Homo sapiens: one gene and its partners. The protein of the gene in region 3 purifies or fractionates together with the protein of the main gene of each other region. This does not show direct contact. Each region holds a gene or a part of one and is shown on either strand. Other genes may lie near its edges. The genes, in order: NOC3L, PDCD11, NOC2L, CEBPZ, TBC1D9B, SDAD1 and MRPL3.

Region 1 (3,500 bases), on a different chromosome or scaffold from region 3:
AAGGAGTAATATCTTTAAATAACTCCATCAGAGAAACAATTACCAGCTTTCGAACAGTAACAGCCACATCAGGATCTTGTTCCATCAACATAGAACGTAATTCTTTCAATTTTTTAATCTGTTAAAGAAATAGCTTATAAAGCTGGAGAAATCATGACGAAACAATTATGAACAAAAGACAACAGCCCCACATCCGGCAAAACAAGCGGAATTCACACAATGACTCCAAGTCTAGTCATGCCACACCAAACTCCAGACCCTGCTCACTTTACCAAGAGATAAGTCACTAAAGTCATAAAGTAATTGTATTAGTCCGTTCTTGTATTGCTAGAAAGAAATGCCTGAGGCTGGATAATTTATAAAGAAAAGAGGTTTATTTTGGCTTATAGTTCTGCAGGCTGTAGAGGAAGCTCGGTGCCTGCGTCTACTCCTGGTGAGGCCTCAGGAAACTTACGATCAAGGCAGAAGGCAAAGGGGGAGCCAGGGTGTCACAGGAAAGATAGGGGAGGTTCTAAGCTCTTTTAAACAACCAGCTCTCACATGAACTACCAGAGTGAGAAGTCACTTGTTACCACAAGGATGGCACCAAGCCATTCATGAGGGATCCACCCCTATAATCTAAACACCTCCCACCAGGCCCACTTCCAACATCAGAGGTCACATTTCAACATAAGATTTGGAGGGGACACACCTCCAAACTATATCAGTAATCATATTTTTGTCATATAGTTAGAAACATACAGACCTTAAAAAATTAGTTTACATTTATTATTTAGCTATTTTGGGAAATTCTTTTTTGCTGGATTTTCCTAAAGTACGTGTGTCCTATTCTTCTAAAAACGCTTTTCAAAATATACTAAAATGTTATATACATTAACCAAATATATCAGTCATACACATGAATTAATCAGGAATTACATGTAATATAGCCACATTAACTTGAGCTTCAAAGATAATTTCTATGATGGTTTCGACTGCTTTGATGAACTACTATTGTCTGTGAGCACAGGTTCCTGAGTAGAAGATCTGGGTTCCAATCCAGTGGCTGTTAAAATCTGGAACAAATCACTTGGGTTTTTTAAGGCTCAATTTTCCAGCTGTAAAATTAGATCAATCTCTTATGCCTATGGTTTTGTAATGATTGAGAGAATACACATAAGAAATATTCCAAATCTCTCTTCCCTAATTCTGCTCTAGATCTTCCCCTCACTTCATTAGAAAAGGACAAGTACTACTCCAAAGCATTCCCACATGAAATTTGCTTCTATAAATGTAAATAAGCTATTCTATCATTTCATAAACAAATACTTGTTATAATAGTATGCTGGGGACACCAGCATAACAATAATAATAGTATCATTTTATATGACTTCACGTATATTTCATCATATAATCCTCACCACAAAGTTTTGAAAAAGACACTGTCCTTTTTTAGAGATGAAAGAGTCTTGGATAAATAACTTACCCAAAGTCTCACAGATAGTACTTATCAGGGCCAAGATTAAACCTCAGATTTCTCTAGTTCATGTGTTATAACCATCACTAACTCAACGACTATACACATGGCACAATAACACTTTACTTTAACTTTGGCTCTAGTTCACTTAAAATATTTTCAACTTACAAATATTCCTGAACTAATTCCATACACTTCCCCTGTAGCGCGCTTTTTAAAAACTCCACGGGTATGTCAAGCAAATTTGCAAACAGGTTCCTCCTCCCTAATACAATTTTATAAATTTAAACATTTTTAGAGTTATAAGATGTCCAGTATTTTCATATATGAAGATGAGGAGAATAAGATTCAGAGAGTTTAAGTAACTTTTCTAGGATTACAAAAGAAATTAAGTTCAGACATAGCATTAAGCTAAGATTCTGTCTACTCTCTTACTCTAACCCAGCTACTATGTTTAGTTAATGCTTTTCCTTTTAGTGTATGCTTATAGGTAACAAGGGAATCTTAACAATTAGGCATTTACACCATACCTAATACAAAGAGCCTAAAGAAATTAATACTACCTACATTATTTTCTGGATCTGATAATATGGCAGATGCCAAGGCTGCAATATGCATCTTCTTCTCCTGTAATTTCTTCTTTCTCTCAATCAAATGTTCTTCTATGGTCAGCTCTTGAATAGGATCTTCAATGATCTCTAAAACAGATTAGATGTTCCCTTACATATTCCTCTGCTTACAAGTATCCAAGAATCTTAATAAAATATTTTTACAGTAATAATAATAATGACAACAGCTAAGAATTTTGTATTTACTACTACACATCATCTCCTCAACAATACAGGTACTATCATTGGACCCATTTTATAGATAAGAAAACTGAAGCAAAGGAAGAGAAAATAACTTGGCTAAGCTCATAAACCAAAGGAAAATAGGATTCAAGCTCATAAACCAAAGGAAAATAGGATTCAAACTCAGGCAGTCTGATTCTAGAACTTTTTTTTTTTTTTTTTGAGACAGGGTCTCACTTGGTCACCTAGGCTGGAGTACAGTGGCACTATCACAGCTTACTACAGCCTCCACCTCCCAGGTTCAATTGATCCTCCCACCTCAGCCTCCCCAGTAGCTGAGACCATAGGTGAGCCACAATACCCAGCTAATTTTTGTGTTTTTTGTAGAGACGGGGTTTCACCATGTGGCCCAGACTGGTCTCAAACTCCTGGGCTCAAGTGATCCTCCCACCTCAGCATCCCAAAGTGCTGGGATTACAGGCATGAGCCAGTGCAACCAGCCTAGAGCTCATATTCTTAGCTTCTATGATAATAAGCCCAAAATAATTCATATTAATTAACAAATAGGATAATCCTATTTAGTTTTTTTTTAAGTACAGAATATTCTCCTTTGTTTTTAACACTATATATTACTTTATACAAACTAATACTTCATAGTTTTGGGCTACAGAAAAACATGTCCACCTTAGGAAATTCATAGGGAACTAGATTTAATCAACACTAGCATAATCTGTAATGGTTTTATGATGGGTGACTGAAAACAGTTAAACAGTTGACCTGTAATTCATTTTTGCTATTAATGAGGTCTGCTAAGCGAAAGTAAAATTTAACTAGATTGTTCTGTCACAAATTCCAAACTAATATAATTTCAAACAATAAAATGCATTATTTCAGTTCAACTTTGATTAAATGGTCCTAGGTAATAGAAACTGACATTCAATTATATGAAACATATGCAAGTATAATTGTGCTAGAAACAAACCAAAATGACTTCATACTACAGAATCGCTTTTGTAATTTAAAGCTAAAAAGTTAACAGTTATTTGTAAGTAGTCTTTCTCTTACAATTAAAAGGAATTCAGAACAGTAATAATTAACAAGACACACTTCTTGTATGCCTAGATATTACAAATATGATTGTGTAAATTTTTCCATAATCAAAAAAATAAAGAATCTATTAATAATTCCACAAGATGAAGCTTTCAAATGTGGAAAAATGTTCAAAGTGACCTTGAAATGAGCAGTACTCCAAA
Region 2 (3,500 bases), on a different chromosome or scaffold from region 3:
AAACCAGGCTTTAAATTGATACTTAAAACCTGTACACAGCTTTTGCATTAATTTTCATATGATCCCTCCAGCCCTAGGAGAACCAAATATCCCCACTAGAGAAACAAGAAAACTTGGACAGAGAAAGGCAAAAATCAATCCTAACACTGGTAAAATCAAGATTCGAATTCGGGATTCCTAATTCCAAAGCCCAGTGCTCTTTCCGTAAGACAGTGCTGCTAATGTCCCCCTCACCTTGGCCGAACACTCAGCTCCGGGATGGTTCGAACGAATCTGGGGTGACTTATTGGGAGATACCTGGAGAAACAAATAAGCTGAATCATTTCTCTTCATCTCTGTAACACAGTAATCTGTAGGTCAGGATTTCTCCCTACTCTCCACCAAACCAAGCTCACAAAAGCACCCTGTTCCACTGTCACACCACCACTGAAGACAGATGTGTCAGGCTGAAGGTTTCCATTCCCAACCTTTGCAGTTATTAGTAAGGAGCAGGCTCATCTGAATTTTTTTTTTTTCTGGGACAAGGTCTCACTCTGTCACCCAAGCTGGAATGCAGTGGCGCAATCATGGCTCACTGTAGCCTCAATCTCCTGGGCTCAAGCAATCCTCCCAGCTCAGCCTCCCAAGTAGCTGGGACTATAGGTGTATGCCACCATGCCCAGCTAATTTTTATTTTTATTTATTTATTTTTTTTTTTGTAGAGATGGGGTCTCACCATGTTGCCCAGGCAGGTCTTGAACTCCTGGGCTCAGGTTTTCCACCTCCCTCATCGTCCCAAAGTGCTGGGATTACAGGGTTCAGCCACTACACCCAGCCTCACCTGATTTTTTTTTTTTTTTTGAAACGGAGTCTCACTCTCTTGCCCAGGCTAGAGTGCAATGGCACAATCTCAGCTCACTGCAACCTCTGCCTCCTGAGTTCAAGTGATTCTCCTGCCTCAGCTTCCCGAGTAGCTGGGACTACAGGCACTGTGCCCGGCTAATTTTTGTTTTTTCAGTAGACGGGGTTTCACCATGTTGGCCAGGCTAGTCTTGAACTCCTGATCTCAGGTGATCCACCCACCTCAGCCTCCCAAAAGTGCTGGAATTACAGGCGTGAGCCACCGTGCCTGGCCTGATCTTTTAGGATTGTCATATCAGATCCTGAAAACAATTTTCCTTACAGTCTATATACTCCAATTCTTTCATTCTAAAAATAAGGAAACTGAGGTCTTTATTTAGAGGATAATTGACTTACTGAAGACCCCACAGTTAGCTACTGAAATTAATATGCAAATTATTGGCCAGACTTTGAATTCTTTTTTTGCTGTTCTTGTTATAGCAAGAATTTCTGCTACAGTAACATGTGGCACTAGATTTAAAGTAAATGAGGATAATTAAAGTGGGAGGTGGAGAATGACAACTGCAGATGTATACAGCGCAGTAACTGAGGCCAGCAACCCACTAGGCAAAGAACAGACTACACGTTCTCTCTTTCAGTCTTCACCATGGCCCTACAAAGTAGTCGCTACCATGACTCTCACGTTACAAATTAAGAAAATAAAATTTGGACTTAAGTAGCTACTGCCACATGGTCACAGTTAATCTAGAATTCAAACCCGGGTCTGACTCCAAACCCATGTTCTTAACAACCACACCATATATTCCATATTTTTAAAAAGAATAATGCACTGTAATCCCAGCACTTTGGGAGGTGGAGGTGAGCAAATCACAAGGTCAGGAGATTGAGACCATCCTGGCTAACACAGTGAAACCCCATCTCTATTAAAAACACAAAAAGTTAGCCGGGCGTGGTGGTGGGTGCCTGTAGTCCCAGCTACTTGGGAGGCTGAGGCAGGAGAAGGGTGTGAACCCAGGAGGCAGAGCTTGCAGTGAGGCGAGATCACACCACTGCACTTCAGCCTGGGCAACAGAGTGAGACTCCGTCTCAAAAAAAAGAAAAAAAAAAGAATCTTGCAAAATAATTCTTTGGTGAATGCCTTTTGTTAACTAAAAGAGAATCTGACTTACATGCAACTTTTTGGAGCCCACCTACTTTCCCAGTCCTCCCACAACAACAACAATCTCCCTCGAAGCCAGCCCACCCCCAGAGCCTCCATACTTGAATGTCTTCATGTCTCGCCCGCCAATCACTCGGGCAGTGACCGTCTTCCCAACCTTCAGCTTGGTAGTAGGAGAGGTGCCCTCTGGAACATCATCTAGAATGTGGGAGGCATGGATACAGCCAATAATGCCATCTTCCAGAGTCACAACCACATGGGTAGGCTTAATGGACTTGACAGTCCCTGTGACCATGTCCCCGATGGAGAGGGTGTGCTTCTTTATGGTCCCTACAGTCAGAGCTGGATCCACTTCTTCATCCTCATCAACTGTCTCAGAGTCCTTCTGGGTCGGCCTCATGGTCCTCTTGGCAGCCGGCCCCTCCACAGCCAAAAGAAGGCCAGTCACTCCTGGTTCTGTGGTCTTGAGGGTTAGGGAGACACCCTGTCCCACCTGCAATTTCTCTGAGTCAAAGCGGAAGGTGTCGTTGAGGTGAGAGGTCAGGGAGAAAGCTGCCAGGTGGCCCGTCTCTACCAAGGAGGCAATGGCAAAGGACTTCTCCAAGTGCTGCACAATCGCCTGGTGTTCGCTGCCTTTCCTCAGCTAGAAGAGAGAAAAGCCACCATCCCTGCTTTCCTTACACAGCATGGTCACTCACTCATGGCCCCACTGGGCAGGGTGTGGCTGAGGAAACCCTCTGGGGTCCCAAGGCTAGGGAACTCAAGGCTGGTCTGAGCTGGAACAGACTAGCCTTCACTCCCTGGACCTAGCTTTCCTCTCCTGTACACTAAACTCATGGGGCTGCCTCTGAATTACCTTGGCTTGGTTTTTGCTTTGCTTTGAATTTAAATTGCAAGACCCTATCCTAGATCTAGTAAATCTGAATTTTACAAGTTATTGAGATAATTCTGATGCACAGCCTTGCAACCTCTAACAGCTCTCTCAGCTTAGAGACACTGTGGTTCCTGAATCTGTCCTGCAGCTCCCCCACCCCCAATTAATCACTCTTCAACCCAAGCAATGAATAGAGTCATTACTGAGAGCTTATTGTGTGCAAGGCACCTAGCCTCTCTTTCCTCAAAATCCAAATTGTGCTCATGCTCTTATATGCCCAAGCTTCCCTTAGGTGATAAAATGGTACAGGGTCCTGCTAGAAAACTGAATGAGAGGTTAGTATTGCTTTCCATTCTCTCTCTGTCCTAAACTCTTAATACTGTAAGCAACTGGAAATTAAGGATTATATCTACACTGCACCATACTCTGTGCAACTAGGTGCCTAATAAGTGCTTTAGACAATAACCAAATATATTCATCACCCAGAGAAAAATAATAATTTTTCCCTCAAACCCATTCTTATGTCACACAAAAGTGTCCAGAAGACAAGGCAGGCGAGGGTGTGGACGCACAGCTTGGAGGTCTGAACTGCCCACAGACATGCTGTTTGGCTCATGGGATGTTTTT
Region 3 (2,777 bases):
CCCAAGCAGCTGCTGCACCTGCCGGCAGTAGTTGGCCACCTTGCACTCCCGGAGGAACGACTTCAGCTGCGGAAGGGAGGGGTCAGCCACTGAAGCCCAGGACCGCTCCATGTGCACAGCTGGCCCAGGTCCTGTGCAAAACCACGCGTGGTGGCCACGGGGATACCCCAGGAGGGGACATGGATCCCATCTCAGGGCTCAAGTGCATAGCTGTTGCAGCTGGGATGGCAGAGGCAGAATCAGCCCACCCTCTGGGCCAACCCTGCCCACTACTCACCTCTGGAAATAAAGTTTTATGCCAGGCGTGGTGGCTCTCGCCTGTAATCCCAGCACTTTGGGAGGCTGAGGCGGGTGGATCACCTGAGGTCAGGAGTTCAAGACCAGCCTGGCCAACGTGGCAAAACCCCGTCTCTACTAAAATACCAAAATTAGCTGGGTGTGGTGGTGGGCGCCTGTAAACCCAGCTCCTTGGGAGGCTGAGGCTGGAGAATCGCTTGAGCCCAGGAGATGGAGATTGCAGTGAGCCGAGATCGCACCATTGCACTCCAGCCTGGGCAACACAGCGAGACTCCATCTCAAACAATACTACTACTACTAATAAAATACAGTCTCGCTGACGTGCAGCCACACGTGTGCATTGCATGGTTCTGCAGTTGCCTGTGCAGCTGAACATCCGTAGGAAGCCACGTTTACCATTTGGCCCCTCACCAAAAACATTTTCTGACCCCTACCCCAGACCCCGACCCTGGGCCCTTGAGTCCAGAAGCAGAGATGCCCCAATGCCAGGTATCACCACCCAAGAGGACATGGGAGGAACAGAGGCTGTGGCCCCTGCTGTGAGTGCCCCCCAGAAAGGGGGTCCCGGCTCTGTGCATGTGACATGTGTGGCCGTGTGTGAGTACACACACATGCACACACCTCTATCTGGATAAGCCTCTGACCAATTGTGGCTCATGTGAGCAGATCCCTCCTCCCCACACTGCACAGACCTATAGTCGGCACATCTGATTCCAGCCACCAGGGCCAGACAGCAGGGCCCCCACCCCTTCCACTAGGCACAGGCCTCCCTGAGGCTGGAAACATCACGGCTGAGAGCAAACAGACCTCCCGTGGGGGCCCAGAAGGACCTTCTGAGGATAAGGAGAACCCCCTCCTCCACCCCACTCCTGCCTAAGATGAGGCTGACGTGGGGTATTTAGCGGGGCAGGCTGGGCCTTCCTATGAGGCTGATGTGGGGTATTTGGCGGGGCAGGCCAGGCCTTCCTGCCACCTGAGAAGCCACTCCACCCACTCCCCACACCCGGGATGGCCTGGGGAAGTGTGCGATCAGCGTACCAGCCTGAGCCAGGGTCGGCATGCTCAGTCCCAACCCCGAAGCAAAGATCAGCCTTGTGGTTCCCACCTGGGGAGGAGGCTGTTGTGCTCCCAGGGTCCTCAGCCCACTGCCCAGGCCTGCCCCCAAACCTCCTGAATGGCTTAGAACCCCTCATCAGCCCCTCCAAGGGGGCCTCACGGGGCGCGTTGCCAGCAGTCAGGTTCCACCCCAGTCCCAGGTACCCGGGACAAGGGCACCTCCTACCAGCCTGGGGCAGCCAAGCCCGTTATAAGACAGTCTGAGTCGGCCACGAGCCGGTGTGGGCAGGACACACACCTGCAGGACCACAGGCAGCACCAGCTCCGGGAAGCCGATGCAGTGTGCCTGGCTGTGCAGGTACTCCAGGGTGAGGTCGTACAGCTGCTCCACCAGGCCGTCCTGAAGAGCAGGAGAGAGGGCCGAGTGCATCAGGGAGAGGCTGGGGCTGGGCACTCAGGCCCCTTCCCCTCAGGCTGTCAGGGCAGCGCCATCTCCAGGGCACGGACTGCAAGGAAGGGGCTCCTGGGCCCCAGCCCTGGGAGACCATGAAGGTCCATGCTTGAACTTGGAGGATGCCAGCCCCCTCCCATCCACCTCAGCACCCCCAACCCCACCCTGGGAACTGCCCAGGCCCCTCCCCAGGAGGCCAGCCTCACCCGGTACGCCTTCTCCTGCAGGTTGACATTGGACAGCTTCAGGATCACGGAGAAGTTGATGGGCTTGGAGCTCATGCGCCCTGGCTTCCTGTTGAAGTCGACCTGCTGGAACATCTGCCCCAAGGGCCGTGTCAGGCTCTCTCGGCCCCATGCCTGGTCACCCTGGCTTCACCCTGGCTGCACCCTGGTCCCCCTGGTCCCTTTGGCCCTGCACCTGGCTGCACCCTGGTCACCCTGGTCCTCAGGCTTCAGCACGAGGAGACCCAACCCGAAACAAGAGATAAGCAGCTAGGCACGGTCCCAGCCCCATGGCCCCACACAGCCTGGCGTGTCCCCGAGTGGGGCTCTGATCAGCAGGGAAGGATCAGGAACACGGGCCCTCTCCCAAAATCCTGGGAAGCACTAAGGACCCACGTCTGGAGACCTAGAGGTCCCTGCCACACAGAGTACCAGGACAGCCCCCATTCCTGACAACATGGCACTGAGGCCCATCCTGGCCCTCAGCACAGCAATGCCACATGGGGCTCCGTCCCGAGCAACCAGAAGACGCAGCAGCAACAGCAAAGAGTGCCAGACACAGGACGGGACAGATGGAGGTCACGGGAGGCCTGGGGGGCCCCTCCCACACCCTCCACAGAAGCCACAGGCCATGCACCTCCGTAGGACATGCCAGGAGGAGCAGAGAAAGAGTCAGCCTGGCCTCTCAGTCTTGTGACCCCTCCCCAACCACTAGGAGCCCTCAGGCTGTGAACCAGAGAGATCCAGGG
Region 4 (3,500 bases), on a different chromosome or scaffold from region 3:
AATTTGCTAATAAGCAATTTAAAAACAATAAGACTGGAAAATATTACTCCAAGATATGCTAAAATCTTTATTCTGATGGTAAGGCACTATACTGCTATTCCATGTGGGTTTTGTAATTCCACTAGCATAGGCTTGAGGACAGACTGAGAAAAAGACTCTAAGAATTGGCACAGTTCTAATATTTTGTGCAAGTACAAAATTTTCTAAATAGCTTCATTAATAAGACCAAATAATATAAAACCCCTTAAAACAAGAAACTTCTGCTGTGGTTCAGAATAAGTAAGAAGAATGTTGGGCAGGCATGTGCATGCTGGAGGTATGTGAAAGGACAGAAAGGTCAGACAACAGTCTAGAGACAATTCTGGGTGTTCCTTGCTAATTTACAAGATAAAATATTCACCTTCATCTATGCTGGGCTATGATGAATACTGATTAACTTTTATAAACTGCTAATTACTATCAAAAAATGGCAGCATTTCAGCTCAACATGTATTGTACAGAGAAGCTAGCTGCTGGTTAAAGTAAAAGTCCAAAGCTCAAAAAGCTGCTTAAAAGAAAACACACATAACACACAATAAAAACCCTTCAGCTCCAAACGAGAAGGGAAAAGGTCCTTTTAAGTTTCTGGCTGACATGAGTATTAATTTGAATACAGGGCTATATTAAAAACCTTTAGCAGAAAAACAAACTTAAGGCTAAGGAAGTGAGGAAGACACAGTTTATGTCTTATTTTAAAAAATGCTTACCTGGAACGCTCTCACTTTCATCATCTAACACATCCATGAATGTTCCTCCATCTTCATCAACTTCAGCAAATTCTTCATCATCCATACTTCCTAAAGAAACTTCATCGTCATCCAGGTTACCAAGTTCATCATCACTACCTTCTGAATCTTCATCTAATGTGTTATCCTTAGCTCCTTTTGTTCTCTTTTTCACGTTTCTGGAAAAAAACACAACTTGTAATACAAGAGGAGGCAGTATTTTCTAAAGTAGTGTTTTGCTGACTACTAGGGCAGTAGGCTATTAAATGACTCAGAAGGAGAAAGCTTTGCAGACTGCTCAGAGTAAATAATAACGTGCTTTATAAATGTCAAAGATGAAAGTACTGTATCCACTTCCCAAACTTACTTGACTACATTTCCCCTTTATCATATAGTTCTGTGGTCTACTGTTCTGAGGGACAACAATTTGGGAAATGCTAGAAAAATAGGAAGGAGAAGATAGAAGTATGTTACCCAGCAAAATCCATATCATCCTTTCCAGAGCTGAAACAGTTATCATCTTCAAATGTGTCTGCCAGACAATACAGAAATGTGAGATACAACAAAGAATGACAAGCTTGACATATATCTTGTATCTGAATCAATTATTCTAAGTCATGATTCTGCTGTTTATGACAAGTGAACACCAAAACAATGTAAATGTTACTGTTGCTAGTGTGCCTTAATAATGTATACAAACCTGTGAAATACTGATCTTAGTTAAATCCCAAAACTAAAGAAGGATCCAGTTAATTTCGGCTCTTTCTACAGTTCTTTTATGGAAAGAGGATAAATATCAAATAAAATGATATTTAGCAATTGTCGTCCTTTTTACTCTATTAGAACTACTTAAGTGCTCATTTTTAATAGGTGTGATACAATATGTAACATCTCATGCTTGTAATTCCAGCACTTTGGGAGGCCGAGGTGGAGTGATCATCAGCCTGGGCAACACGGCAAGACCCTATCTCTATTAAAAAAAAAAAAAAAACAAAAACAACAACAACAAAAAAAAAAACAAAAAAAAAACGAGCCGGACATCATGGCATGTACCTGTAGTCCCAGCTACCCGTGGGGCTGAGGCAGGAAAATCGCCTGAGCCCAGAAGGTCTAGGCTGCAGGGCTGCAGTGAGTTGGGATTGTGCCACTGCACTCCAGCCTGGGAGACAGAGAGAGCCTGTCTCAAAACAAACAAACAAACCCCCCAAAAAACAACAACAAAAAAATATGTAACGTGAAATCAGTGTAAGTCTTTCCAATTTACCATGTTTTTTGTTTAAGTCTATTAAGTTTCAATCAAAATTTCTGTAGCTCTGTGGATTAAAGATAAAAAAGATCAAACAGTAGACTATTGCTATCAATTAGTACTGATATACTATAATAGATTATGAATAGTAAAAAGGATTTCTTTTTCACATGAGATTTGGCTGTAACAATTGAATAGACTTAAGCAAATATAAATGTTTTCTTATATAGACTATCCAAAGCACAAATCATGTATTTTTCTGGTGCAAATGTGGGTGAATTACCATATATCATAAAAATATTTGTTTCTTTTGTTTTTTTTTTGAGACAGGATTTCACTCTGTCACCCAGGCTAGAGTGCAGTGCCGTAATCTTGGCTCACGGCAACCTCTGACTCCTGGATTCAAGCGATTCTCGTGCCTCTGCTTCTCGAGTAGCTGGGACTACAGGTGCGTGCCACCATGCCCAGCTCATTTTTTGGGGTTTTTAGTAGAGACAGGGTTTCACCATATTGGCCAGGCTGGTCTCGAACTCCTGACCTCAAACAATCTTCCTGCCTCGGCCTGCCAAAGTGCTGGGATTACAGGTGTGAGCCACAGCGCCTGGCCCCAAATATTTCTTAATCTTCCACTGTGATTTGCATGATATTCTTAGCTAAGTGATTTTTTAAAACTAAGGCCACTTCTCCCACTAATGTTCCATGGTCTATTAACACATAGTAGTAGATTATTTTACAAAGAGTCAACAAAACAAATTACCAATCAGCTCTTCAAATTCTTCATCATCCACGTCTTCTATACTTTCTTCATCTGCATCCCGTTTTTGTTTCTCTTTAACAGCAACTTTTTTATAATACCTATAATATTCATGTTATATATTTGACAATTTTATTAAAGGTCTAATCTTACTATATATCATCAAAGCACCTATGACCAGTGGCAAACCACAACTGTAAAATCTTAAGTATACTCAATTGGAAATAAATGACTGAAATTTGTATCTAATATACAAAAAATAGTTTAACTCAATAAAAAGTAGCTGGAATCTTTTAAGTGTAATACATTTCAAAGATAATATTTTATCAGCCCTATTCTTATATTAGAATACAGCAAAACTTAGCCATTTACAGATGTAATCAAACCCTCAAAATTATTCATTCTAAATGATTTTAAAAAACAAGCCAAATCAAACCTAATTAACCAGTCAACCAGATGAGATAAGAGGTACTTTACTACCCTAAGGCATTAGGTTATGATACTAGTTGGTTTAGGACTTATTTCTATAACAGTGCACTGAATCCATTCTAAGGGCCATGGTCTGGATAAATTACCCATGAGTTATCACTATATTAAACTTAAAGTATTATATTAAAATCTATATTAAAGGTAGATTTTAAGCCTATAAAGAAAATTATTATAAAAGGAAATTAAAGGCTAAATTCCAAAAAGAAGCATAAAACAAAATTTATATGCTAAATTAACAAAACTCCCA
Region 5 (3,500 bases), on a different chromosome or scaffold from region 3:
TATTATTTTCTGTTACACATAACATTCCTAGAAAACTAAAACAGAAGAAATCTCCTCCTCGCTGCCTGTGTGGATGTGTCAGCACTTTAATTAAAAATATTTATAGGCCGGGCACAGTGGCTCAGTCCTATAATCCCAGCACTCTGGGAGGCTGAGGCAGGGGAATCGCTTGAGCCCAGGAGTTTGAGATCAGTCTGGGCAACATGGCTGTCTCTACAAAAAATAGAAAAAATGAGGCATGGTTGCGTGGGCCTGCAGTCCCAGCTAGTCAGGAGGCTGAGGTGGGAGGATCGCTTTAGCCAGAGAGCTGCAGTGAGCTGTGATTGCACCACGGCACTCCAGCCTGGGCAACAGAAAGAGAACGCCTCAAAAAAACATTTCTTTTTTTACATATGTGCATTAAAAATATTAGTTAAAAGTAACTCAATCTTCATTTCATACTAAGAAACTATTCCATCTCTATGCTAGGTGCTGGGAATAAAAATAATATAATAGCTAATTAGAGTATTAAATGCTGTTTCTGTTTTCAGAGTTTTCCATGGATTATCTTATTTCATTCTCAGAACACAGTGGAGACAGGTACCATTATTTTCATTTTACCAGATGAAGCTGAGGCACAGAGAGGTGAAATAAGTTACCCAAGGTCACACAGCTGGGAAGTGATCAAATCAGAATCCTAACCCTGGGTGCCTGGCTGCAGAGCCTGCCCTCACCCTCGGAAGCTCCCGGCCTCATGGGCTTCCACGTAAAAGCGTGTGCAGACACGTCATGTCCAGAGGAGTAAGGAGGAAGGATGGGTCTGTGGAGTCTGGGCAGTTCTCAGAGGAGCGGGAGGGAAGGTTAGCTGGCATGGCGGACACTAGGCACAGCAGCCAGGAGGGGTGTGGCTCCTCCAGGCCCTGCAGCTGTGTGGTCCGGCTGAAGGCCAGGCTGTGAGCTGGGGAGACAAGGCCAGAAATGGAGGCAGGCAGACCCCCAGGTGTCCTCGAACACCAGGCTCAAGGGTCAGGACTCACTAAGCAGGTGCTGGCAGGGCCATGTCTGGTCTTGGTGAGTTGCTTCTGGGGCCTAGCCTGGCTGGCAGGAAAGGGAGGCACAGCCAGGGCCAGTGCAGGGCTTTGGGCCTGGCAGGAGGGGAGAGGTCAAGTGTGTGGCACGGGGCTACGTACATGGGCTCCGCTGCGTGGCTGTGGCTGGGCCCCTCCCCAGCACCAGGCCTGCTGTGACTAAAGGGATTCCCACTCTGCCCCTCGTACTTTTCTCTCCCCAGGGACGGGCAGCTCTTGCTGCCAGAGATGGAAATCTCAAGGGCCCATGTTAAAGCAGCTCCTCTCCTCATTAGCACACACCAACCTCCTGGCCCACTCAGAAATGGTCCCCTCCCCACAGGAAGCCCCTCCTCTGGCAAACTCTTGCTGCCCCCAGGGTCCACTCAGGCTCTGAAGCCAGAGATCGGGGGTCTAACTGGGCTTCCCTGCTTGGCCTTGGACAAACTCCCCTTCCTAACTCTTACTGAGTTATTCAGTCCTGCAAAGGAGAAGGGCACTGCTGGTCAGGATGCCCGTGCAGAGCGCCCACCTGGGAGTGGGGCTATTCCCGGGGTGCCGCCCGCCCTGTGCTTTTACTTCCTTGACCCTTCCCCTCCTGAAGCTGGGTTCCAGCCGTGAGGTTGACAAACTTTTGAGTCTCATCATCTTCTCCCAGGCCTTCAAGGGAAACCACTACCCTGGAGAACAAGGGCACTGTGGCTTCTGCTTCAGAGAGGTACTGAGAGGGTCCAAACTGCAGCTGTGTGACTCTGAGCAGGTTACTCAACCCCTCTGGGCCAGAGTTTCTTCACCTTCAACATAGAGAAGACCAAAGTACTTATGCCTTCTGGAGGTACCGGGTGGTTCAGGCAAGTGCCTGGCACACAGGAAGCACTGTCTGAGCGTCAGCTAGGACTGTCATTTTCTCAGAGCAAACTCAACCCAGCAGGTACCCGCTGAAAGGGGACTTCCCTCCGCACTCTTGGACGGGTGAGTGCGCTTCCACCTAGGAGGACAACTACAGCGGATTCTCGTTATTCAGGTGGTCAGATTCTGTAAGGTGGCCGCGAACACTGAGTTAGCGAATCCTGAACCAGTACCCCGGGGGAACACAGGGTTAGGTTCCTGGAGCCTCTAATCACACTTCTGTCGACTGACCGATACATAACTGTTTTACATGTGTTTCTGTTTAAAGATGCCTTATTTAATACGTATTCCTGATCGATTGGCATTGAGCTCACGGCCAGCAGCACTATCACTCACGCCTGAATGAAGCTGCTCTCATGCACAGATCTCCTTCACAAGGCACAACTCAGCCTTCTTGCTCTTAGGAACAAGAGCGCTATGCTTGGGAGCCATTTTAAACAGCCAAGTCATCAGCAACGAGCACAAACATGGGAAAAACATGGCACTGCAGAGACTGTGAACAGGACACGTGAGTGCAGTATGAGAGCTGAATCAAGAAGGCAGAGCGTCGTCCTGTTCTGCCTCAGCTGGGGACATGGGCATCAGGCGAGTCAAATTTTTCACTGCTTTGAACGTGCATGTGTCCATGAGTGTCTCCAAATGACCACAAAATCGCTGGAAGTATTGATTTGGGGATTGCAAATACATTTTATTGAGTAGGCCAATTTGCAAATATGGAATCTTTGAATGAGGCCGACTACGTCTACCTTGAGAAAAGGTGGCATGAGAATGTGGACATTGGCTAGCCCCACACCTGCGTCCCTAGAGGTACATGGGGATCCATGGGGCTGTCCTCTCCTGCCCTGTCCCCATGACCAGTGGAGCTGCCTTTTTTTTTTTTTTTTTTTTTTGAGACGGAATCTCGCTGTGTCGCCCAGGCTGGAGTGCAGTGGCGCGATCTCGGCTCACTGCAAGCTCCGCCTCCCGGGTTCACGCCATTCTCCTGCCTCAGCCTCCCGAGTAGCTGGGACTACAGGCCTCCGCCACCACCCCCAGCTAATTTTTTGTGTTTTTTAGTAGAGACGTGGTTTCACCGTGTTAGCCAGGATGGTCTCGATCTCCTGACCTCGTGATCAGCCCGCCTCGGCCTCCCAAAGTGCTGGGATTACAGACGTGAGCCACCGCACCGGGCCACGGAGCTGCCTTTCTAAGATGGAAGCGAAGGCTCCTCCACTTCCCTCTTGCAGCCTTGGGCTATGCTGTCAGCAGGGAATACCACCCAGACACGTGGGCTACACACCCCTTCCTCTCGGCAACGGCCCTTCCAGGGCAGGCCCTGCCCAGCACCCCTCACCACTCAGGGCACCTACCACACGCCACTGTCCAGTAGACCTGGGAGTCCTGGGTCTGGTGCAGGATGCGGTAAGGGGCCACGCGGGCACTGGAGTCCAGCACCACGTCCAGGGTGCCCACGAGAAGACCTGGGAACAGGGCAGAGAGACATAGAGGGTGAGGGGAGGGCCGGACTGAGGCCCCTGAAGGCTGAGTCTGGCCGGAGGCAGACAG
Region 6 (3,500 bases), on a different chromosome or scaffold from region 3:
CACATAGTCATTGCTCAATAAATATCTGCTGAATGAATGTTCAAATAGTATACAATTTAAAGGTCTGCACAGATACTGCAGGAGTGTTTTGCCCAAAATAAGGGTGAAATAAAAATCAACCTTCATCATTTTCAGCATTCTCTTCTTTCTCAACTTCCAGAACTTCTGCTCCTGGAATGTAATCTTTAGCATCTAATTCTCCATATTCTTGTACTCTTGCTTCTATGGAGGCCTCTGTAGGCTTACCCTAAAGGAAAAGAAATTGTTTGTAATAAGTTGCTTAGATCATAAAACCTTAATCATGAAAGGTAGTCTCTGAAATTATGAATTTATTTTATTTATTTATTTGAAGACAGGGTCTTGCTCTGTTGCCCAGACTGGAGTGCAGTGGTACAATCTCAGCTCACTACAACCTCCGCCTCCTGGGCTCAAGGGATCCACCCACCTCAGCCTCCCTAGTAGTTGGGACTACAGGCACGCACCACCACACCCAGCTAACAAAATTATGAATTTAAAAGGGAGCACTATAAAAAATGCTGGTAACCAAATGACAGCAACAGTTTGCTTATGTCTCAGGTCAAAATAAATCCCCAGCCAGCAATCTGTCCACTATTTTCTTGTTGTGTTTTGATCTAGATCAAGACACTGGTAGTTATTAGAGAGTAACTGCTCTAATTTTTTAAGTCTTGAAAAACGTCATCTCTCTTTCTGTTACATACATGCATCCCTCCTCCCTTCCAACTTGAAAGAGGTAGTATCTGGCTGTGCAATAGCCTGTTCACAAAACTGGCATCAGCTACTGACTGATCTTTGAGATTCCGATCTGTTAATAACATTAAAAGCTTTCAAGCTGAAACAGCCTGATAGGTCTTCAAGACACAGTCATCATCAATGAATATGTGCCAACTATAAAATATTCAGGGCCATGGTATTTGATTCCAAGCTTAAAGAATACAACCGTGTGCATCATAACCATGTAATCATAACAGAAGCATCATAAGTACTAAAATCCTAATTGTAGGAAATTTCTCTCAGTTTGTGAGACCATAACCTTTAGACCAACATAAGTGTGCTTTACCTACCCGGAATTTCTTCTGCAGCATCTGAGGATTCAGTGTTCGGAAGAGGTGAATCAAAGTTCTAGCAGACATCATTACATCTGTAAAATAATACTTTTAATTAGAAATTCTGGCCCATAGAGTACAATGAGGTAAAAAGGAGTCACACTGTACTCTTTGGTGTGTAGAGAGTAACATGCAGCTTACTCTTATCCTTGTGTGTTTTATACTGAGCCAGGTCTTGGAGAAGTTCTTCAGTCATGGCCAGAGGACATCGAGCTGTTATCTCCTTTATAGCATTGATTCTAGAAAAAGAAAAACAAAGTTTAAAAGAGCCCGAATAGCAATTTTTTCATGATTCAACACAGGAAGACTTCCTAAAAAGATTAACTCAAAAGGAAAACACGTTGAGTTTTATATAGCTTAGGTCTCCAAAACTGCAGCATGTTAGAGAATGTCAGGTAGGCAGCCTTAGAGGGCTTTTATTCCAGTTACTGCCATTTCCTCTACTGGTGGAATAAGGAACAGTGTCCGGCACACTAAATCAGAGAAGCATTTACTTGCCAACTCTAAGAAGAGATGGGACTAGCTCAAATAAGAAAGGTTAAAGTCTTTAGGGCTATTATCCTGCAATATTTTCCAAGGAAAATAAAAAGCTGCTGTTCAGCATATCACTTACTTATCAGGACAGATTAGACAATCCTTAAACCAGTGATTATACTCATTAAGTGTTTTTTAATCAACCAAAAGGGCTACTAAATTGCCCTAGGAAAAAAGAGTGCTTCAATAATAAATCACTCGTTCCAGGGTTCTATGGTTTGAATGTTCCCTCTAAAACTCATGTCGAAACTTAATTGCCACTGTAATGGTTTAAAGAGGAGAGACTTTTTTTTCACTGTTTTATTATTATTATGCTTTAAGTTATAGGGTACATGTGCACAACGTGCAGGTTTGTTACATATGTATACATGTGTCATGTTGGTGTGCTGCACCCATTAACTCGTCATTAACATTGGGTATATCTCCTAATGCTATCCCTCCCCACTACCGCCACCCCACGACAGGCCCCGGTGTGTGATGTTCCCCATCCTGTGTCCAAGTGTTCTCATTGTTCAATTCCCACCTGTGAGTGAGAACATGTGGTGTTTGGTTTTCTGTCCTTGCGATAGTTTGCTAAGAATGATGGTTTCCAGCTTCATCCATGTCCCTGCAAAGGACATGAACTCATCCTTTTTTATGGCTGCATAGTATTCCATAGCGTATATGTGCCACATTTTCTTAATCCAGTCTATCATTGTTGGACATTTGGGTTGGTTCCAAGTCTTTGCTATTGTGAATAGTGCTGCAATAAACATATGTGTGCATGTGTCTTTACATCAGCATGATTTATAATCCTTCGGGTATATACCCAGTTATGGGATGGCTGGGTCAAATGGTATTTCTAGTTCTAGATCCTTGAGGAATAGCCACACTGTCTTCCACAATGGTTGAACTAGTTTACAGTCCCATCAACAGTGTAAAAGTGTTCCTATTTCTCCACATCCTCTCCAGCACCTATCGTTTCCTGACTTTTTAATGATCGCCATTCTAACTGGTATGAGATGGTATCTCATTGTGGTTTTGATTTGCATTTCTCTGATGGCCAGTGATGATAAGCATTTTTTAATGTGCCTTTAGGCTACATAAATGTCTTCTTTTGAGAAGCATCTGTTCATATCCTTTGCCCACTTGTTGATGGGGTTTTTTTCTTGTAAATTTGTTTAAGGTCTTTGTAGATTCTGGATATTAGCCCTTTGTCAGATGGGTAGATTGCAAAAATTTTCTCCCATTCTGTAGGTTGCCTGTTCACTCTGATGGTAGTTTCTTTTGCTGTGCAGAAGCTCTTTAGTTTAACTAGATCCCACCTGTCAATTTTGGCTTTTGTTGCCATTGCTTTTGGTGTTTTAGATATGAAGTCCTTGTCCATGCCTATGTCCTGAATGGTATTGCCTAGGTTTTCTTCTAGGGTTTTTATGGTTTTAGGCCTAACATTTAAGTCTTTAATCCATCTTGAATTAATTTTTGTATAAGGTGTCAGGAAGGGATCCAGTTTCAGCTTTCTGCATATGCTAGCCAGTTTTCCCAGCACCATTTATTAAATAGGGAATCCTTTCCCTATTTCTTGTTTTTGTCAGGTTTGTCAAAGAACAGATGGTTATAGATGTGTGGTATTATATCTGAGGGCTCTGTTCTGTTCCATTGGTCTCTATCTCTGTTTTGGTACCAGTACCATGCTGTTTTGGTTACTGTAGCCTTGTAGTATAGTTTGAAGTCAGGTAGCGTGACTCCAGCTTTGTTCTTTTGGCTTAGGATTGTCTTGGCAATGTGGGCTCTTTTTTGGTTCCATATGAACTTTAAAGTAGTTTTTTCCAATTCTGTGAAGAAAGCCACTGGTAGCTTGAT
Region 7 (3,500 bases), on a different chromosome or scaffold from region 3:
TGACAAAAAAGTTATGCCACTTTTTATTTCCTGATGTGAAGAGTGCCTCTTTCATCACAATATAACATAGTACATCTATTTTCCTGCTGTTCGCTCTCCCTCAACTTTCTAACCATAAATGAAGAACCCGCAGGCCCCCAATGGCTATGTTACTCTATGTATGCTTTCCTGAATCTGTCTGCACCACTCTCTTCATCTGTGATCTCCTCCCTACCCTGCATCTCCAAAGCTTCAAAGTTGAGGAAGAGGGAACAGCAGGTAGATGTATCTGTGTTCGTTTTATTCTGGTGAAAGAGGCACTCTTCACACTGGGAAATATAAGTACATGTCTCTAGTACTAAATTCAGTTATATTTCCTATCCAGATCCCTCTCTGAGCAGCCTTACCAGAGCACATTGCTCCTTTGTCTATGCCAACACTAGACACTGGAATATCTCAATTACTGTCCATATCACCATACACTTATCTACTCAAATGTTGGTCAGCATGCTGACCTGTGAGCACCTGGATGGTAAAGGCTGTTTTTTATTCATCTGTGTCTCTAACTTTACAGCTAAGCACAGTGGCAAGTTAGACAATAAAGAAGTGGGCTAAACCAACGATGAAAAGAAACAGAAGATAAAGGACAGGCAACCATCTGGGTATAAAGTTTGTCTAACTCTTCCCACTTTTCTACTCTTCTGCTCCATCAGTTCTTGGAACACGACGTTACTGTGTTTGTGGCCTCAATCTTCAGGTCTAGTTACTGTAAAAGTATAGGCCTAAGAGATATATCATGACTTGCTCTGAGGACGAACAAATCAGCAAGAAACTATTATAAAACCAAACCAATAGTAATTGTAATTTTCAAAAAGCAAGAATAGCAGCAACTAAAAAACCCTAACCAACTCAAGATGACACTGATAATAACAAAGTATCCTTCCCCCAAATTCCAATGAAGTGCCTGCAGAGTCAGACTTGTTTGTAGAATATAATATGTGAATACTTAGCAAACTTTAGTTACTTGTTCAGTTTAAAATGTAAACCATTAGTACTTATAACTTACTCAGTTGCCTATAGTTGACATGAAATTGGGTGGCACTGGCCTGTAAGCACACAGTTTAATTTTTGGATCAGTCTACAACTTACCAGGAATCCCCCTGGGGCTCTCCAGTGGAGCCTACAACAAATGCCAAGAAGCTCTACTTTGATGTCCACTGAAGACTGTTCTATACCTCACAAGAGTTCTCTCAAGAAGCTATCCTTTCCTCCACAAGAGTGATAACACAAATTCATTCCAATCATTCTCTATTATTTTATTTCCTACACGCTGAAATTAACACTAACACCCAACACCACTATTATCAAGTCCCCTGCTTTTCATCTTCAATCATACTCACTTCTGCAACAAGAGCAAACACAAAATTTTCATTTAACAGTATGGCTCCTTTAAATTATTTTCCTGATGTATAAAATTCAGATTTATTAAATTTTAGAATGGACTTCAAGTTTATTTTTGACATTCACCTATTCCACGTGATTTTCAAAGCATATTATTTTGTTAATGCCAGCTTTTTAAGCATATCTGGAAGCTTCTGAGGAAAATCCTTTACTATTCTAATAATACAAAACAGACAATATATATAAACATTTCATCCTAAGTAACTTTTTAGACTAAACCATAAATAGAACCAAGGTAAAACATACTTCTCGATTATCATCCAATTTCACTAATAGTAAATACTTTTTTCTTTTAAAATCAAAATATTATAAAACTAATTAGGTCTCAGTCAGGAGGAAAACCAAATGCTCAAGTAGAGTTAAAACCAGAAGCAATGTAAAAGACTTTTTTCTTTTTTTCAGACTTCTAAATAAGTAAATGATTTCAAAAGGCAATTTAAAAGACTGACAGTACTGTCACAGTTGGATAATCCCATCTATGAGGTTGCATTCTTTTCCCCCACTTCAAAGTTCTCTGCAATTATCCTTCCCACAATGAAAATGCCTCTCCTCCTAAGATGAATTGATTTAATCAATGTTTAAGGCCACTTAACTTCCTCATTCAAAAACACTATGTACTACCTCAGTTTTTATTTATAATAAGGTACAAAACAAAAAGGCAACGTAGTCTAATTTCTTGGAGGCATAAATTCTTTACAGATTAAAAGAAAACAGTTCTAACACTATTATAAAGTGATTTAATTTCCAAATGTTTAGATATATGAAATTTTATATTCATAGGTCTTCGTTTTTTAAAAAATCCTCTATAATCAATCGATTTGCATTTTTTCCTGAGAGCTATAATATGGAAGTCTGGATACTTTTAGTTTCAAAAATCTTTGTTTTCAAACAAAAATGATGTATTTACAAAGAATTCTAAAACTTCATTTTCACATTTCATTTTGAAGAAAGGTCATTTTATAGACAAAGCTTTTTCTTGTTATTGTAATAAATGTCATCTGGACTTAGAAATTTTATATCTTGAAGAAATTTTATATCTTGAAGAAAGAAGGTCCTTCGCAGTACTTTCTATGCTAGAGAAGTGAAGTTTTCAAAGTTTACGTAAATTAAGTGGGTCAAAATCCACCACAACATTAGAACACAACATCCAAATCACCCTGCTGTGCTATGTAACCACTGAAGAGAATAAAGCTATCAGAATAAGCTAAAGAGAAAAAAATGTGTGAACAGCCTCGACTATGAAATGCAATACCTATCATTCTGTAATATTAATTATTAGTACTGTTATAGTAATACTATTAGTATTACTTTCATAAAATTTTGATTATAACACATCTTTATCACTAAGTAAAATAGAATAAATTGAGCTCCCATGTACTTTTTTTCTCCAAACTTGTTTTTTCTTGAGAATTAAAATATTCAGAGAACCAATGTGAGACTTTCAGAACTGGAAGATAATTCAGAGACCATCAAGTACTATTCCTTGTTTTTATGGGTAAGAAAATAGATGTTCAAAAGGTGAGTATAGGGGACCTAAAGGTAGAAATCAGGATTAGAACTCAACTTTTCTGATCCCACATCACTTGTTTTCTCACTACCTCATATTTCAGAGGAAGCAATCTTCACAGACCTGGCTGGGGCAGAAGGGATTACCCTAGCATGCTTGATTTACAAATATCCAGGCCATGAAGGCATCAATTTACAAAACTTGTAATGAAAATGAAGATGATGATGCTAGTCATTACAAAAACACAGAAGTACAATCAAGTAGAAAACAGTGGCATCTATCAAACCAAAGAATTACTCATATGAAGGCTGGTACATAATAAATTTTTAAAAAGTCAAACACTTGATTTTTTTAAAAAGTTCCCATAAATATCTCATTGTACTCTATAATTACTATGGAGTTATATGAAACCCAAATTTGTTAGTCAATAAACTGTTAAGAATAGCAGGACAGATATTATGACAAAGCTTTAAAGAAAAATAAATGGAGTATGCTACCATAATATTCAAAAATAGCTAACTTCTCTAACACGAAACAAAATAAACCATGTCAC

Evidence for each region.
Region 1: the proteins of NOC2L (region 3) and NOC3L purify together in Homo sapiens (affinity purification with mass spectrometry; one large-scale study listed by BioGRID and IntAct). This does not show direct contact.
Region 2: the proteins of NOC2L (region 3) and PDCD11 purify together in Homo sapiens (affinity purification with mass spectrometry; one large-scale study listed by BioGRID and IntAct). This does not show direct contact.
Region 4: the proteins of NOC2L (region 3) and CEBPZ purify together in Homo sapiens (affinity purification with mass spectrometry; 2 studies listed by BioGRID and IntAct, with this or other methods). This does not show direct contact.
Region 5: the proteins of NOC2L (region 3) and TBC1D9B purify together in Homo sapiens (co-immunoprecipitation; one large-scale study listed by IntAct). This does not show direct contact.
Region 6: the proteins of NOC2L (region 3) and SDAD1 fractionate together in Homo sapiens (co-fractionation; one large-scale study listed by BioGRID). This does not show direct contact.
Region 7: the proteins of NOC2L (region 3) and MRPL3 purify together in Homo sapiens (affinity purification with mass spectrometry, with the first as the bait; one large-scale study listed by BioGRID). This does not show direct contact.

The regions. Positions count from the first base shown.
Region 1 is NC_000010.11:94,352,940-94,356,439, forward strand, and holds part of NOC3L (nucleolar complex protein 3 homolog), read right to left. Parts: intron 2,155-3,500; coding exon 2,024-2,154; intron 119-2,023; coding exon 1-118. UniProt on the Homo sapiens protein: May be required for adipogenesis.
Region 2 is NC_000010.11:103,424,126-103,427,625, reverse strand, and holds part of PDCD11 (protein RRP5 homolog), read right to left. Parts: intron 2,643-3,500; coding exon 2,101-2,642; intron 298-2,100; coding exon 235-297; intron 1-234. UniProt on the Homo sapiens protein: Essential for the generation of mature 18S rRNA, specifically necessary for cleavages at sites A0, 1 and 2 of the 47S precursor. Directly interacts with U3 snoRNA. Involved in the biogenesis of rRNA.
Region 3 is NC_000001.11:946,480-949,256, forward strand, and holds part of NOC2L (nucleolar complex protein 2 homolog), read right to left. Parts: intron 2,125-2,777; coding exon 2,011-2,124; intron 1,754-2,010; coding exon 1,652-1,753; intron 67-1,651; coding exon 1-66.
Region 4 is NC_000002.12:37,211,097-37,214,596, forward strand, and holds part of CEBPZ (CCAAT/enhancer-binding protein zeta), read right to left. Parts: intron 2,866-3,500; coding exon 2,768-2,865; intron 2,459-2,767; exon of another isoform or gene 2,341-2,458; intron 1,584-2,340; exon of another isoform or gene 1,297-1,583; coding exon 1,239-1,296; exon of another isoform or gene 1,160-1,238; intron 944-1,159; coding exon 747-943; intron 79-746; exon of another isoform or gene 1-78. UniProt on the Homo sapiens protein: Stimulates transcription from the HSP70 promoter.
Region 5 is NC_000005.10:179,901,398-179,904,897, forward strand, and holds part of TBC1D9B (TBC1 domain family member 9B), read right to left. Parts: intron 3,416-3,500; coding exon 3,305-3,415; intron 1-3,304. UniProt on the Homo sapiens protein: May act as a GTPase-activating protein for Rab family protein(s).
Region 6 is NC_000004.12:75,959,946-75,963,445, forward strand, and holds part of SDAD1 (protein SDA1 homolog), read right to left. Parts: intron 1,364-3,500; coding exon 1,266-1,363; intron 1,160-1,265; coding exon 1,083-1,159; intron 248-1,082; coding exon 121-247; intron 1-120.
Region 7 is NC_000003.12:131,492,972-131,496,471, forward strand, and holds part of MRPL3 (large ribosomal subunit protein uL3m), read right to left. Parts: intron 1-3,500.